Linked DNA regions of Homo sapiens. The protein of the gene in region 1 purifies or fractionates together with the protein of each later gene. This does not show direct contact. Each region holds a gene or a part of one and is shown on either strand. Other genes may lie near its edges.

Region 1 (4,017 bases):
CCCTATATGCTGAAGATGGAAGCCTGAGTGCAGATGCCCCCAGTGAGCAGGTCCAACAGCAGGGCAAGCATCCAGGTGACCCTGAGGCCGCGCGCCAGAGGTTCCGGCAGTTCCGTTATAAGGACATGACAGGTCCCCGGGAGGCCCTGGACCAGCTCCGAGAGCTGTGTCACCAGTGGCTACAGCCTAAGGCACGCTCCAAGGAGCAGATCCTGGAGCTGCTGGTGCTGGAGCAGTTCCTAGGTGCACTGCCTGTGAAGCTCCGGACATGGGTGGAATCGCAGCACCCAGAGAACTGCCAAGAGGTGGTGGCCCTGGTAGAGGGTGTGACCTGGATGTCTGAGGAGGAAGGTAAGTAGAAGGGTGGGTAGAGGGACAGCTTAATGAGGGTGTCTTGGAGTACCCTGTGGGGGAGATAAGAACTCCAGGCTTCCTAGGAAGGTCATGGGAAGGATTGTGTCCGCTCCATACAGACCAAGGACATCCATGTTGCCCACGTGTTCCTGAGTCAGAGCCACTGAAACCCTTGCATTCTTTAGCCCTTCGTGGGCTTCTGATGGAAGCACACAGATGAAGTGCTTCATTTTTATCCCTCTGGCATCCCTGCTGCACCATAAGCCCTGTAGCACTTGATAAGATAGATGGGAATACTGAGCTCAGAGAGCCCGCAGTAGCAGGAGAGACAGGGATTTGACAAATGAGAATGCATAGAAAAATGCTGGGACTATGAGGAGCTCGAGGTGATGGTGAGGCTTATGAAGGTCTGCAGCTGACACCTGGTGTGGAGTGGAACTTGGCCAGGGTAAAGAAAGGGGGCAGGAAAGATGTGCCATGCAGAGGGGAGCACTGCCTGTAAGGGCCAAGATGGAAGGGATCACAGTAAATGCAAAACTCAGAAAAATCGGTTATGTTTGTGATGGAAGGGAGCAGAGGTTGGAGCTGGCACTGCCAGTGGGGACTTTAGTCCTAAAGCAAAGCAAAATGTTCTTCTAAAACAGTAGGGCTCGATCCCTGAGTTCCAGAAACTGGTGGCACCACTGGATTTGACCTTTAGAGATTTACCAGGCTGCATGTGTGGTGGATGGTGGACAGAGGATGGGGGCGAGGCTGGACACAGGCTACCCGCAGCTATTGCCATGCCCTCTGATGGGGTGGTGTCTTGGATAGGAGTGATGGTGATGTCTGACTGGGGAGAGACTACACGTGTGGAGTGTGTATTTGGGAATAAGACTGCAAGACTTGGTTTCTTCATCAGGCTGAGTTTCACAGAGCGTGCATGCTTCTGCATTGCTCACCTCCATTTTCCACATTTCACGGGTGCCCAGAAGATGTTTCTGATGTGAACGAATGATTGACTGGTTGATGTTTGTGATTGCAGGAAAGGGGAAGGTATCCTGCAGGGGGATGGTGGGATTCTAAGAGGCCAGGGCATCCTGGAGATCGGGTATCCGAGGCAGCAGGGCAGGCACTTGCATGAGTTGTGTCAGATGCACCAAGTCTGGGGTGCTGTACTTGGCAGAATAATTGCCCCAAAGGTGTCCATGTCCTGACTCCTGGACCCTGTGAATAAGTTGCCTCACATGACAAAGGGGACTTTGCAGAAACAATTAAGGATCTTGAGAGGGAGAGATGCACTGGATTATTTGAGTGGATCTAACATAACCACAGGGGCCCTTAGGAGAGGGAGGCTGGAGGGTCAGAGGAGATGTAATGATAGGAGCAGCTGATAGAGGAAGAAGCCATAAGCCAAATGTTTGGGGCAGCCTCTAGAAGCTGGAAAAGGCAAGGAATGGATTCTCCCTTGGAGCCTCCAAAAGGAACATAGCCATGCTGACACCTTCATTTTAGCCCAGTGAGGCACAAACCAGACTTCTCATCTCCAGAACCATAAGGTAATACATTTGCATTAATCTGAGCCGCTGGCATTGTGGCAATTCACTATAACAGCAATAGGAAACTAGTTAGTTAGGTGCCAAGGAGACAGTTGTGGGGTTAATGAGGTGAAAGTCAGTGAATTCACCCTGTGTTTAACCTCAGGGGTGAATAAAATAAATTAGTGCCACAGAAGACAATGGGAAGAGGCTTTCCAGAGAACCCTGAGAATCTCACATTATGTGATCAGTGTGTTAGTTGGGACGCTTGAGTGTGACTGCTGCAAAGCCTTGCACAGAATGGCTCAAGGGAGAAGGAGAATTTATTGGAAAAGTTCCAGGGTGCTCGAGCATCAGGCAGGGCTGGACCCAGGAGCTCCAATAGTGTCCTCCAGACTTGTCCTGTCCCTCATTCTTACCTCTTCTGCCCTCCACTGGCTTCATCATGGGCAGGCTGTCTCCCTGCATGGGATTTCTCTTTCCCAAATGTTCCAACTAAGGCCTTGTTGGCTCCAATCATCTGGCTATAGGCTGTGTTCATCCCAGATCTAATCACTGTGGCCAAGAGAAAGGGATGGTCCAGTGTGCCAGCCTAAGTCATCTTGTGGCCCACCTTGATGGTGGGGGTAGATTAGCATTGTGGAAGCCTGTGGACCATTTGGGGTCATGTGAGGAAGGTTAGAATGAAGGAGCCGTGGTTACAGGGGCCCTTGGGCCAGGTGGAGCTGTTGTTTTCTTAGGTGGAGGAGACTTGGTGACGTTCACCTCAAGATGGCTGCATTTCATGGGTCCAGGGAAAGTCTCACCTTCCATGAGGTGGGAGGAGAGAGGGAAGAAGGAAGAGGTGCCCAAATAGGCAGGGTGCAGGGCTTGGAGGCCGGAAACAGGGGCTTTGACTCTAAGGAGGGGGCGTCAGTCAGCTGCCTCACAGGAGGGGCTGGGGCCCTCAGCAGCCCCCGGAAAGGGAAGGAGTGGGACCAGAGTCTCAGCAGTGAGGACACTGGTGCCCTGTGACCCTTGGAGGGTGAGCCATCCCGGGCCCATCCAGGTGTGGGCACTCGGGCACGTGCTGTGAGGGGAGCAGAGCTGGTGGGAAGGGAGGACAGGAGCAGAGGCTGTCATGGAGCCACAGTACGATGCAGGGGTGCGGTGGCCCCATGGGTTGCAGAGAGGCCACCCTTGCCCTGCCTAAGGGTCCCCACACCTGCTGACCTCCTCTGGCTGGTGTCTCCTCCCAGTACTTCCTGCAGGACAACCTGCCGAGGGCACCACCTGCTGCCTCGAGGTCACTGCCCAGCAGGAGGAGAAGCAGGAGGATGCAGCCATCTGCCCAGTGACAGTGCTCCCTGAGGTAAGCGGGGAGTATCACCCTGTTTTGGTCACAGCATCTCCTGTGAGGCAGGCCCACCCCTGAGGCATCCACTCTGCCCTGGGCTTTCCTAAGACCTCCCACAGGCTGGGACATTCTGAGATTCTGAGCTCTTAGGTCTGTGCTGAAGCAATCTGAGTATGAAGAGCAGCCCTGCCCTCCAGCCACTGTGGCATCACTGGAGACAACGCATGGTGACCCGGGAGCTGAGAAAGCAGGAGGCAAGAGGGAAGGGACTAAGTGTTTACAGAGACTTGAGAGGTGGAACTACCACAGGCAGGCACATCTGTATCCAGGTCAGAACAAGAGAGCCCTCAACCTTCAGAAATGCATACTTAGGTATTTATCTTTGGTATCTGGGATTTGCTTCAGAATAACCCAGAGCTGGGGTGTGGGTGAAAAAGATTGGTCCTGATGCGCTGACCACTGGGGTAGTGGTATGTATGTGTCATTGGTCAGACCTGTTTGCACTGCAAATGGCTTATACTGGCTCAAGCGTAGAAGTCAATTTATTGGCTCTCATGTATTCTCTGGTAGGCTTCAGGCAAGGCTGCATCCAGGTGCTCCCAGGTGATGGGAAGAATCTCTGGCCAACCTGTTTCATGGCTCTGCTTTCTCCCCTTTCTTCTTCTTTTTTTTTGAGATGGAGTTTCACTCTTGTTGCCCAGGCTGGAGTGCAATGGCGCGATCTCAGCTCACTGCAACCTCTGCCTCCCAGGTTCAAGTGATTCTCCTGTCTCAGCCTCCTGAGTAGCTGGGATTACAGACAGCTGCCAC
Region 2 (4,261 bases), on another chromosome or scaffold:
AGAGATGCATAGCTATTCTCATAACCTAGGAAGAGAGGTGGATTTCTCCGTCATCAATAGCTGAACACTCCTTGTGTTTCTAAGTATTGAATCCATAAAGTTACATGCAAACATACAGCCCTTGCCTTCAGGCCAAGCCGTAGTTATGCAGAAGGCTTGAAGCAATCACAGATTTAACATTTGTGGTTCCAGCTATTCAGGACCAATTCCCAAACTCCACGACATGTAACAATTTGTAATTTTGCTAGGACACAGTTTGATGCTTAGGTTTTAAGGCTGGTGTGCTAGACGTTATCAAGTGGTTTGTGAGAGTAGCCCTGTGTCTCCATTGGGTAGAGTAGCTGGGTCGCAAGGATCATGAAGAGATGAAGAAATGGCTGTGAAAAGCCAACTAGCCTCGGTGATAGTAAGCAAAGGTATAGAAACACTAAGGAAGTTACCCTTTGTATTGTCAAAGGTTTCAGTTTTGTGTAAGGTGGTGATTCACGGGCAGTTAATCTCCATCACTAAAATTAAATCCTTTTTTATTCATTGCAAATAGATAATCTGTGGAAGACATTTTGGCTTTTCTCGCTAGCAGAAAATGTGAGGCTTCTTCAGGTTTTTCCTGTTCATTGTTTCACGGGAGCATCTTCCCCAAAACACTGCAAAACTCAAAGTTCTCAGGCTGATGTGGCAGAAAGAGCATTGATCTCGGCTTCAGGAGCTAAATTCTCTAGTCCTGACTGTGCCACTAACAGACTGTGGGACTTCAGACAAGTACATTCCTTTCTCGGGTTTCTTATGTCAAATGGACAGCGTGAGAAGGATCACAATGAACCAGGGATCAGCTTCACGATTAAAACCTAAGACTTAAGAGACGGACATCTGTCCGTTCCTGGCTACACCTCCGGCCCATCTGGCCCACCCCAAACTGCGCGAAGCCCCTCTCCACCGACGCCAGGCCTGTGGCCTCGCGCGAAGCTGTTGGTCGTTAACATCTCCCCCGCAATGGGCGGGATGGAGGGCTTCAGCTTCCGGCTGCAAATGGCGAGGCGGCGCGCGGCGTTGCCCACTGGCCTCGGCATGGGCCTGCCCACGCACCCGCCCAGCGCGCGCCGGACCCTGTCTACCGCCGTTGAAGGGCTTCCCAGCCCTAGCAGTGCGTACTGGGAAGCCCCCAAAAGGCTCTGCGAGGCCGAGGAGACCCGTTCGGAGTGGGGGAGGGGAAGATAAACCGAACTATTTATGTTAATCAGTGCATGCTTCCTTTATGGAGATTGGCCAGGGTTTTACTCTAGTAACCAATCACTTCAGAACAAGGGCGGGCCCGTTGATATCTCTCACACTCATTGGTTGAGAGGTTGCGGCGCAATGGAAGGTCTTAAACCGAGAGTATCCGGGATTATTTTTCCCCGCCGTGCGGTGCGTGTCCCGGAAGTGACGCATGGCCAAGGCCGGGCGGCCGCCTTGCCCCCGCTTCCTTTCACGCTGTCGCTGCCCGTAGGTGGTTGTGGCCACTGTGCCCGGAGGGAGGCGGCGGTGGCCAGTAATGCCTGGGAAACTCCTCTGGGGGGACATTATGGAGCTGGAAGCACCCTTGGAGGAGTCCGAGAGCCAGAAGAAGGAGAGGCAAAAGGTGCGCTGAGCATGGGCCGCGCCTCCTTTTGGGCTGCGCCGGCTTGGGCGGGGAGGGGAACTGTCTGTCCCTGATGATGGCCTGTCAGAACCGGGCCGGAGCATCCGAGGGCCTCCCTTCGCGCCGCCCTCGGCCCTCTGGGGTCGCTCAGGGACCGTTTCCACCTCCACCCTCCCGACCTGGAGAAAGATGGCCCTGGGCTTTGGGCCTCTCCTCCGCGTGGCCCCTCAGCCCTTCCCGTTGGCGCCTGAATCTCAGATGGGCAGACTCAAGCTCCCATCACCATGGAATCTGTTCTTTCTCTCCTGAAGCAGTGACGCTTGCCATTTCGTTTTCATTGGCCCTCTTAGAAGATGATTAAGAAAAAATGATTGCTTTGAATATGTGTTGCTTCTGTCACCCCGTCCCCTGTGCAAGAATCCTGGGGAAAGCGATCTTAGGTTTACAGACCTCAATAACTAGTCTGTAGAGGCTTAAGGAAAAGTGTCACTGAGACTTGCCAGGATTTGTCAGTGATGGAGATCGTGTGGGTTGCATTATTAATAGCCTTTACTGTCAGTATTTTCATTCAATCCGCAGGTGTTTATTGAACCTAATTTGTACCATACTCTTTGCTGAGTACCAAGGAGGTTAAACTAAATAAGTAAAGAAATGGTCTCTGCTCTCAAGGAGCCTGTAGAGGAGTTGTAGTCTTTCCTCCTCCCAGCCCCCTGCCCTCCAAAAAAAAAAAAAAAAAAAAAGGAAAAGAAAAAACATCCTGAAACACTCAGAGGATCACAAGGTGCTGAAAAAATGCCCAGGTAAAATTATTACTGGAGACATTTGACCTGGAAAAAAGAAATCAGCTGAAGAGGCTAAGGTGGCAGTATTCGAAGGCTGACATTCGACAAAAGAATGAGACTTATTTTGTATAGCCTTAGAAAGCAGAATCTACCTCTCTGACCTTATCACTAAGGTAAACTTGCCATTTCAGCTAACACTTTTATTGTGCTAAAATACACATAACGTTTATCATTTTAACCATTTTTAAGTATATAGCTCTGTGACATTAAGTATATTTACATCGTTTTGCAGCTGTCACCATCATCCATCTCCAGAACTTTTCATTGTCCCAGACTGAAACTCTGTGCCCATTAAACACTCACTTCTCATTCCTCTCTCCTTCCACTCCCGGCAACTACCATTCTACTTTCGCTCTGTGAATTTGACTACTGAAGTTACCTAGAGTGTAAGCAGAAAACCAAGCAGGTATTTTAAAAAAGGCTTCTTTTGAAATTCTTGTCTTTTGCATCCCAATCCTGTCCAGCGGTCAAGGCCTAGTTTATGTCTTTCCTGACAACCCGAATGTACCGTTATCTAGTTTCAGTGGCTATCTTCATCATTTGATTGACATTTGTTATGCATGTCTATATAAAATTAGTTCATTTTTCCTGTATGTATCCCACATATTTCCCAAAAGTTCTTGAGGAAAGTGACCAAATCTTTATCCATCCTTATGTTTCACTATGTTGTTTTAAATTGGTGGCTTTCACATTGTAAATTCTCCAGAAATACATATTGACTGCCCTTTAACTATGAAAGATAACCAGAGATTTGGAAACGAATTGGAATACCAACTAAAAGAAATAGAGCATTAGAATACAGGTCTGGTGGCTAGCTGCAGTGGCTCATGCCTGTAATCCTAGCACTTTGGGACGCTGAGATGGGAGGATTGCTTGAGCCCAGAAGTTTAGGTAGAGTTTTGTAGAGACCCTGTCTCTACAAAAAATAAAAAAATTAGCCGGGTGCGGTGGCTCATGCCTGTAATCCCAGCACTTTGGGAGGCTGAGGCAGGCAGATCACCTGAGGTCAGGAGTTCAAGACCAGCCTGGCCAACATGGTTAAATCCCATCTCTGCTAAAAATATAAAAATTGGGCCGGGCATGGTGACTCACTCCTGTAATCCCAGCACTTTGGGAGGCTGAGGCGGGTGGATCGTGAGGTCAGGAGATCGAGACCATCCCGGCCAACATGGTGAAACACCATCTCTACTAAAAATACCAAAAAAGGCCAGGTGCGGTGGCTCACGTCTGTAATGCCGGCATTTTTGGAGGCTGAGGCAGGTGGATCACCTAAGGTCAGGAGTTCGAGACCAGCCTGGCCAACATGGTGAAACTCCGTCTTTACTAAAAATACAAAAATTAGCTGGGCATGGTGGCACATGCCTGTAATCCCAGCTACTCAGGAGGCTGAGGTAAGAGAATCGTATGAACCCGGGAGGCTGAGGTTGCAGTGAGCTGAAATCGCACCACTGCACTGCAGCCTGGGTGACACAGCGAGACTCCATTTAAAAAAAAAACCCAAAAAACCCAAAAATTAGCTGGGTGTGGTGGCGCGTGCCTGTAATTCCAGCTACTCGGGAGGCTGAGATACAGGAATTGCTTGAACCTGGGAGGCAGAGGTTGCAGTGAGCCGAGATCGCACCATTGCACTCCAGCCTGGGTGACAGAGCAAGACTCCGTCTCAGAAAAAAAAAAAAAAAAATTAGCTGGGCGTGGTGGCAGACGCCTGTAATCCCAGCTACTCGGGATGCTAAGGCAGGAGAATTGCTTGAACCCAGGAGGCAGAGGTTGCAGTGAGCCAAGATCACGTCATTGCACACCA

Evidence for each region.
Region 2: the proteins of ZNF274 (region 1) and DDX50 purify together in Homo sapiens (co-immunoprecipitation; one large-scale study listed by IntAct). This does not show direct contact.

What each region holds. Positions count from the first base shown.
Region 1 is NC_000019.10:58,206,852-58,210,868, forward strand, and holds part of ZNF274 (neurotrophin receptor-interacting factor homolog), read left to right. Parts: coding exon 1-351; intron 352-3,109; coding exon 3,110-3,222; exon of another isoform or gene 3,223-3,579; intron 3,580-4,017. UniProt on the Homo sapiens protein: Probable transcription repressor. Specifically binds to the 3'-end of zinc-finger coding genes and recruiting chromatin-modifying proteins such as SETDB1 and TRIM28/KAP1, leading to transcription repression.
Region 2 is NC_000010.11:68,899,854-68,904,114, forward strand, and holds the start of DDX50 (ATP-dependent RNA helicase DDX50), read left to right. Parts: upstream 1-1,461; 5' UTR 1,462-1,531; coding exon 1,532-1,618; intron 1,619-2,202; exon of another isoform or gene 2,203-2,573; intron 2,574-4,261. UniProt on the Homo sapiens protein: ATP-dependent RNA helicase that may play a role in various aspects of RNA metabolism including pre-mRNA splicing or ribosomal RNA production.